Linked DNA regions of Homo sapiens. The protein of the gene in region 2 purifies or fractionates together with the protein of the main gene of each other region. This does not show direct contact. Each region holds a gene or a part of one and is shown on either strand. Other genes may lie near its edges.

Evidence for each region.
Region 1: the proteins of CD226 (region 2) and TMEM192 purify together in Homo sapiens (co-immunoprecipitation; 2 studies listed by BioGRID and IntAct, with this or other methods). This does not show direct contact.

The regions. Positions count from the first base shown.
Region 1 is NC_000004.12:165,095,861-165,099,360, forward strand, and holds part of TMEM192 (transmembrane protein 192), read right to left. Parts: intron 1-3,500.
Region 2 is NC_000018.10:69,937,874-69,941,373, reverse strand, and holds part of CD226 (CD226 antigen isoform a precursor), read left to right. Parts: intron 1-3,500.

The DNA.
Region 1 (3,500 bases), on a different chromosome or scaffold from region 2:
ACCTCCCAGGTTCAAGCAATTCTCCTGCCTCAGCCTCCTGAGTAGCTGGGATTATAGGCGCCCACCACCACCCCAGTCATGCCCAGCTAATTTTTTTTTTTTTTTTTTGTATTTTTAGTACAGACAGGGTTTCACCATGTTGGCCAGGCCTGTCTTGGACTCCTGACATCAGGTGATCTGCCTGCCTCGACCTCCCAAAGTGCTGGTGTTACAGGCGTGAGCCACTGCACCTGGCCCAAATACATTTTGAACTCAAATATTATTAGGCCGGGCGCAGTGGCTCATGCCTGTAATGCCAGCACTATGGGAGGCCAAGGGGAGCGGATCACCTGAGGTTAGGAGTTCGAGACCAGCCTGGCCAACATGGTGAAGCCTCGTCTCTACTAAAAATATAAAAATTAGCTGTGTGTGGTGGTGCGTGCCTGTAGTCTAGCCTGGAGAGGCTGAGGCAGGAGAATCAGTTGAACCTGGGAGGCAGAGGTTGCAGTTAGCTGAGTTCATACCACTGCACTCCAGCCTGGACAACAGAGCAAGACTCTCAAAAAAAAAATTATATATATATATATGTATTTGGATCTAAGGAAGGAGAACAGATTAATCAGGTAAATATTTTCACTTGGTAGGAAAGCAAAGCCCTTTCTCCCATCTCCACCCAAAGGTAAATAATTTTTTTTCTTCTCTGGAAAATAACAAAATATATCAGGCTGAAGTTAATATTATCAGTACTGTTATCTGTAAGTCCTACATCCTACATCTCCATAGATTTATCTTTTTTTTTTTTTGCAAATAAGAAAAAATATTTTAAAAAATAGAAATAAGGTAAGTACCTGCTCCATTCCGTTTGATTTTCTGGGTTTTCACATGAGCCACATAAACGTGATATCACCTGTGATTCTAAAGGTCCAAGTGTTCAGAAATAGATTATGATTACGGCTCACATGTTTAACAAAAATTTGAAAGGCAGATTTTGGAAAGGTAAAGATCAAATAATCTCCTTGTGAGCTTCCAAAATACTATTTCCAGACCATCACTTGAGAAACTGAGTATTATTTTGGTCACAGATCATATAAGATCTTTTGTAGTTTAAAATTAAGTTTTTTCTTTTTTTTTAATCTTTGTGTTACCCTGACATCTTCTGGCCAAAAGAGAGAGCTGCACATCAACAGTTGAACATTCTCAAGCTCATTCTCACAAGAGGCAGGGAGCAATAAATGCTTCCCCTTCAAGAGCAGTCAGGATCACCCAACTCTATAAACTGCTTCACGCTGATATAGCATAGCCCTTCAGCTTCCACTGAGAATTTCACTGAGTAGATGAACTTGCAGCATGCCCTTTAAGAAAATGCACTAACAGGCCGGGCGCGGTGGCTCATGCCTGTAATCCCAGCACTTTGGGAGGCCGAGGCCGGCGGATCACAAGGTCAGGAGATCGAGACCATCCTGGCTAACACGGTGAAACCCCGTCTCTACTAAAAATACAAAAAATTAGCCAGGCGTGGTGGCGGGCGAATGCAGTCCCAGCTACTCGGGAGGCTGAGGCAGGAGAATGGCCTGAACCCGGGAGGCGGAGCTTGCAGTGAGCCGAGATAGCGCCACTGCACTCCAGCCTGGGTGACAGAGCGAGACTCCATCTCAAAAAAAAAAAAAAAAAGAAAAAAGAAAATGCACTAACAGAACAGAAGAAAAATAAAAGTTAAATTCTGTGGAGCCTTTTTTTTTTTTTTTTGGAGAAAAAAATCTCTAATTTGATCCAATTTTTTTTTCTTTTTTTATAGAGGGGGGTGTCACTCTTTCACCTAGGCTGGAGTGTGGTGCATAATCATAGCTCACTGCAGCCTCAAACTCCTGGGCTCAAGTGGATCCTCCCACCTCAGCCTCCCAAGTAGCTAGGACTACAGGCACAGGCTACCACACATGACTAATTTATTTATTTTATTTTATTTTACTTATTTATTTATTTATTTTGAAATAGAGATTTATTTATTTATTTAGAGATCGAGTCTCACTCTGTCACCCAGGTTGGAGTGGCACGATCTCAGCTTACTGCAATCTTGATCTCCCGGGTTCAAGCGATTCTCAGCCTCCTGAGTAGCTGGAATTACAGCCACCTGCCATCACACCCAGCTAATTTTTGTATTTTTAGTAGAGATGGGGTTTCATCATGTTGACCAGGCTGGTCTCAAACTCCTGACCTCAAGTGATCCTCCCGCCTCAGCCTACCAAAGTGCTGAGATGCTAGCATTACAGGCATGAGCCACCGTGCCCGGCCTTAATTTTTTTTTTAGACAGAGTTTCGCTCTTGTCACCCAGGCTGCAGTGCAATGGTATGATTGCAGCTCACTGCAACCTCTGCCTCCCGGATTCAAGCAATTCTCCTGCCTCAGCCTCCCGAGTAGCTGGGATTACAGTTGCCCGCCACCACGTTCAGCTAATTTTTGTATTTTTAGTAGAGACAGGGTTTCACCATGTTGGCCAGGCTGGTCTCGAACTCCTGACCTCAGGGAATCTACCCGCCTCGGCCTCCCAAAGTGCTGGGATTATAGGCGTGAGCCACCACGCCCAGGAATTTCTTTTTTTTTTTAAAACTTAACTTGGTGCTCATTTGTTACAGCACTAAATTTCTCATTTTTGGTAGAGATGGGGGAACTCACTATGTTGCCCAGGCTGGTCTCGAACTCCTGGCCTCAAGCAATCCTCCTACCTTGGCCTCCCAAAGCTCTGTGATTATAGGCATGAGCCACCATGCCCAGCCTGGATTCAAAAAAAATTTTTTTTTCTTTTTCCTTCTTTTTCTTTTTCTCGCTGCCTCCTCCAAGTAGGAAGACTACATATGGATTCAAGTTTTTTTTTCTTTTGAGGCAGTGTTCCGCTCTTGTTGCCCAGGCTGGAGTGCAGCGGCATGACTTCGGCTCACTGTAACCTCTGCCTCCCAGGTTCAAGCGATTCTCCTGCCTCAGCCTCCCAAGTAGCTGGGACTACAGGCGCGTGCCACCACACCCGGCTAATTTTCGTTTGTATTTTTAGTAGAGATGAGGTTTCACCATGTTGGCCAGGCTGGTCTCGAACTCCTGACGTCAGGTGATCCTTCCGCTTCGGCCTCCCAAAGTGCTGGGATTACAGGCATGAGCCACCGAGCCTGGCCTGGATTCAAAAATTTTTAAGATTTATTCTGGACTCAAATTGAAAAACAGGATCTTTTTAAAAGGTAGAAACTAAGTTATTTACTACAACTTTTTTTCTTTCTTTTTTTTTTTTTTTTTTTTGAGATGGGGTCTCACTCTGTCACCCAGGCTGGAGTCTGGAGTGCAGTGGCATGATCTCGGCTCAAGCAATTCTCCCACCTCAGCTTCCAGAGTAGCTGGGACCACAGGGGCACACCACCACACTTGGCTAATTTTTGTGTTTTTAGTAGAGAGGGGTTTCTCCATGTTGCCCAGGCTGGTCTCAAACTCCTGACCTCAAGGGATCTGCCCACCTCAGCCTCCCAAAGTGCTGGGATTA
Region 2 (3,500 bases):
GTGTCTGTGGCTTCTCCAGTTGCATGGTGCAAGCCGTCTGTGGATCAGATTCAGATTGTGGGGTCTGAAGGATGGTGGCCCTCTTCTCACAGCTCTACTAGACAGTGCCCCAGTGGGGATTCTGTGTGGGGGCTCCAACCCCACATTTCCCTGCTGCAGTGCCCTAGCAGAGGTCTTCCATGAGGGCTCTGCCCTTGCAGCAACTTCTGAATGGACACCCAGGTGTTTCTGTACATTTTCTGAAGTCTAGGCAGAGGTTCTCAAACCACAGTTCTTGACTTCTGTGCACCCGCAGGCCCAACACCACGTGTAAGCTGTCAAGGCTTGGGGCTTGCACCCTCTGAAGCAACAGCCTGAGCTGTATGTTGGCCCCTTTTAGCCGTGGCTGGGACATAGGGCACCATATGCAGTCCCGAGGCTGCATAGAGCAGGGGGTCTTAGGCTTGGCCCAGGAAATCACTTTTCCCTCCTAGGCTTATGATGGAAGGGGCTGCCATGAAGGTCTCTGACATGCCTTGGAGACATTTTCCCCATTGTCTTGGTGATTTACATTTGGCTCCTCATTACTTATGCAAATTTCTGCAGCTGGCTGGAATTTCTTCCCAGAAAATGTTTTTCTTTTCTGTCGCATCATCAGGCTGCAAATTTTCCAAATTTTTTATGCTCTGCTTCCTCTTGAATGCTTTGCCCCTTAGAAGTTTCTTCTGCCAGATACCCTAAATTATCTCTCTCAAGTTCAAAGTTCCACAGATCTCTGGGGCAGGGGCAAAATGCCACCAAACTCTTTGCATAGCAAGAGTGACCTTTACTCCATTTCCCAAAAAGTTCCTCATCTCCATCTGAGACCACCTCAGCCTGGACTTCATTGTTTATATCACTGTCAGCATTTTGGTCAATGTCATTCAACAAATTTCTAGGAAGTTCCCAAATTTCCCACATTTTCCTGTCTTCTTCTGAGCCCTCAAAACTGTTCCAACCTCTACCTGTTACCCAGTTCCAAAGTTGCTTTCACACTTGTGGATATCTTTACAGCAACCCTCCACTCTCTGCTGTACTCATTTACTGTATTACTCAGTTTTCATGCTGCTAATAAAGACATACCTGAGACAGGGTAATTTATAAAGGAAAGAGGTTTAATTGATTCTCAGTTCAGTATGGGTGGGGAGGCCTCAGGAAACTTACAATCATGGTGGAAGGGGAAGCAAATATGTCCTTCACATGGTAGCAGGGAGAAGAAGAGTGAGTGCCCAGAGCAGGGGAAGCCCCTTATAAAACCATCAGATCTCATGAGAACTAACTCACTATCATGAGAACAGGATGGGGGAAACCACCCCCATGATTCAGTTATCTCCACCTGGTCTCTCCCACGACACGTGAGGGTTATGGGAACTACAACTCAAGATGAGATTTGGGTGGGCACACGGCCAAATTATATCATATGATCATGGAGACTGATAAGCCCAAATTTGCAGTGTGGGCTTGCAGGCTGCAGACCCAGGAGAGCCGATGGTACAGGTGAAGCCCAGGTCATCTGCTGCAGAATCCCTCTTGCTTGGGGAGGCTGGTCTTTTTGTTGAATTAGGCTCACCTACATTATGGAGGCAAACTGCTTATTCAAAATTCACCAATTTAAATGTTAATCTCATCCCAAAACACCCTTCAAATTGACACGTAAAATTAACCATCATACCTGTTTTGGAAAATGATATGGCATTAGCTAGTTAAAAACCCCAAATCCTATGATCCAATAATTCTACTCTGTTTGGTATCCAAGAGTTCTCTCATTATAGGGAAAATTCCTGACAATATTTATAGCAACAGTGATTGCAATAGCAAAAAATTGGTAACAACCCAAATACCCATCAACAGTAGAACCGAAAAGCACACTGAGGTCTATTCACACATTAGGATACTCTACATCACTAAAATGAGTGAATTATCACTTGCTCACCGACATGGATGAAGCTCATGAACTTTGTGTTGAAAGAAAAGAGCAAGTTACCAAAAAAAATAGGTAAACTAGGGTTCCTTTTCTTTAAAGGTTTTAGAAATATGCATAATTAAACAATACGTTATTTATAGATACAAACGTGGTAAAACTATAAAGAAAAGCAAAGTTCAGAAACATGGTAGGTGGGGGATAGAATAGAATCAGGAAGGGCTGAAAGGGTCTTTAAGGCTCATAGTCAGGGTGTTTTCCTTATACAGGTGTTTTATTTTGCATTTGTCTCAAAATGTTTTAGAAGATTTCTTTCAAATCTACTGATTTCTTTTTCTTTTCCTTTTTTGAGACAGAGTCTCACTCTGTTGCCCAGGCTGGAGTGCAGTGGCATGATCTCAGCTCATTGCAACCTCTGCCTCCTGGGTTCAAGTGGTTCTCCTGCCTCAGCCTCCTGAGTAGCTGGGATTACAGGCCTGCATCATCACACCCAGCTAATTTTTGTATTTTTGTAGAGATGGGGGTTTTGCCATGTTGGCCAGGCTGATCTCAAACTCCTGACCTCAGGTGATCCACCCCACCTTGGCCTCCCAAAGTGCTGGAATTACAGGCATAGGCCACCTTGCCTGGCCAAATCTACTGATTTCTAATGGTGAAAAGAGATGTGATTGCAATTTTTGAGCAGTTGAAAGCTCTAAGGTAAGGATGAAATCTTCATTCTGATATGGCCTGGGGGCCAGGTAGAGGTAAGTTTCAGCAATGGTTTCAAATTTTTATGATCCAAGGACTAAAAAATGATGATTTTAGTGAAAAAGATGTGAAATTAAGAGACCAACTTGGCTAGCAAGAGTGGAATTAAGTCTGTTTCAGGTGTATTAAATTGTAAAGTAGCCTTTGACCAGCTGACAATTGAAATTATGGAACAACAAACCAGGATTGAAAATATCCAATTTGAAGTCATCTGAATGATCATCCAGCACATGTGGATGGATGGGGTTAACTAAGAAAGTACCAATGGATGGGGGCAGAAGTCTAAGGTCATAGCTTGTGGCTTGGAGGATGGTCACATTGTAGTGTGTTAAAGAAGGTGTTCATGTTAAAGAATGTAGAGGGCATAGAGAAAAGAGGGGGAGAGTTGGGAGGGAGAGGAAAGTGAACAGGTGAATTATTGATGTGAGAGCAGAAGACACATAGAACTCATATTTATAGTAGAGGGTTAGATTTTCTTGCTCCACACATGCAGGTACTTTGTGTTGGCTGTATTGTATGTTTGCTGACTCTGTGATCTCCCATATTCCAGTCCATTTATCTCAAACTGGGCACAGAGATGTTCCTCACTGTTTCCCTTTAAGAGTCTCATTCTCTCCCAGGTGGGATGAGGCTCCTTATATGCCATCCATGCTCATTCTTAGAAGGCTCTTATCTCTACACCCTTCAGGGACAAGTGTTCTCTGTCCAGGTTCCCAGCAGCTGACATAGCAGCCAAAGTTTTCTTTCATTCTTGTATATATCTGCTGGTTAGTGGCACTAAAGAGATTCCTTTAATATTAAGGGCTCCAGA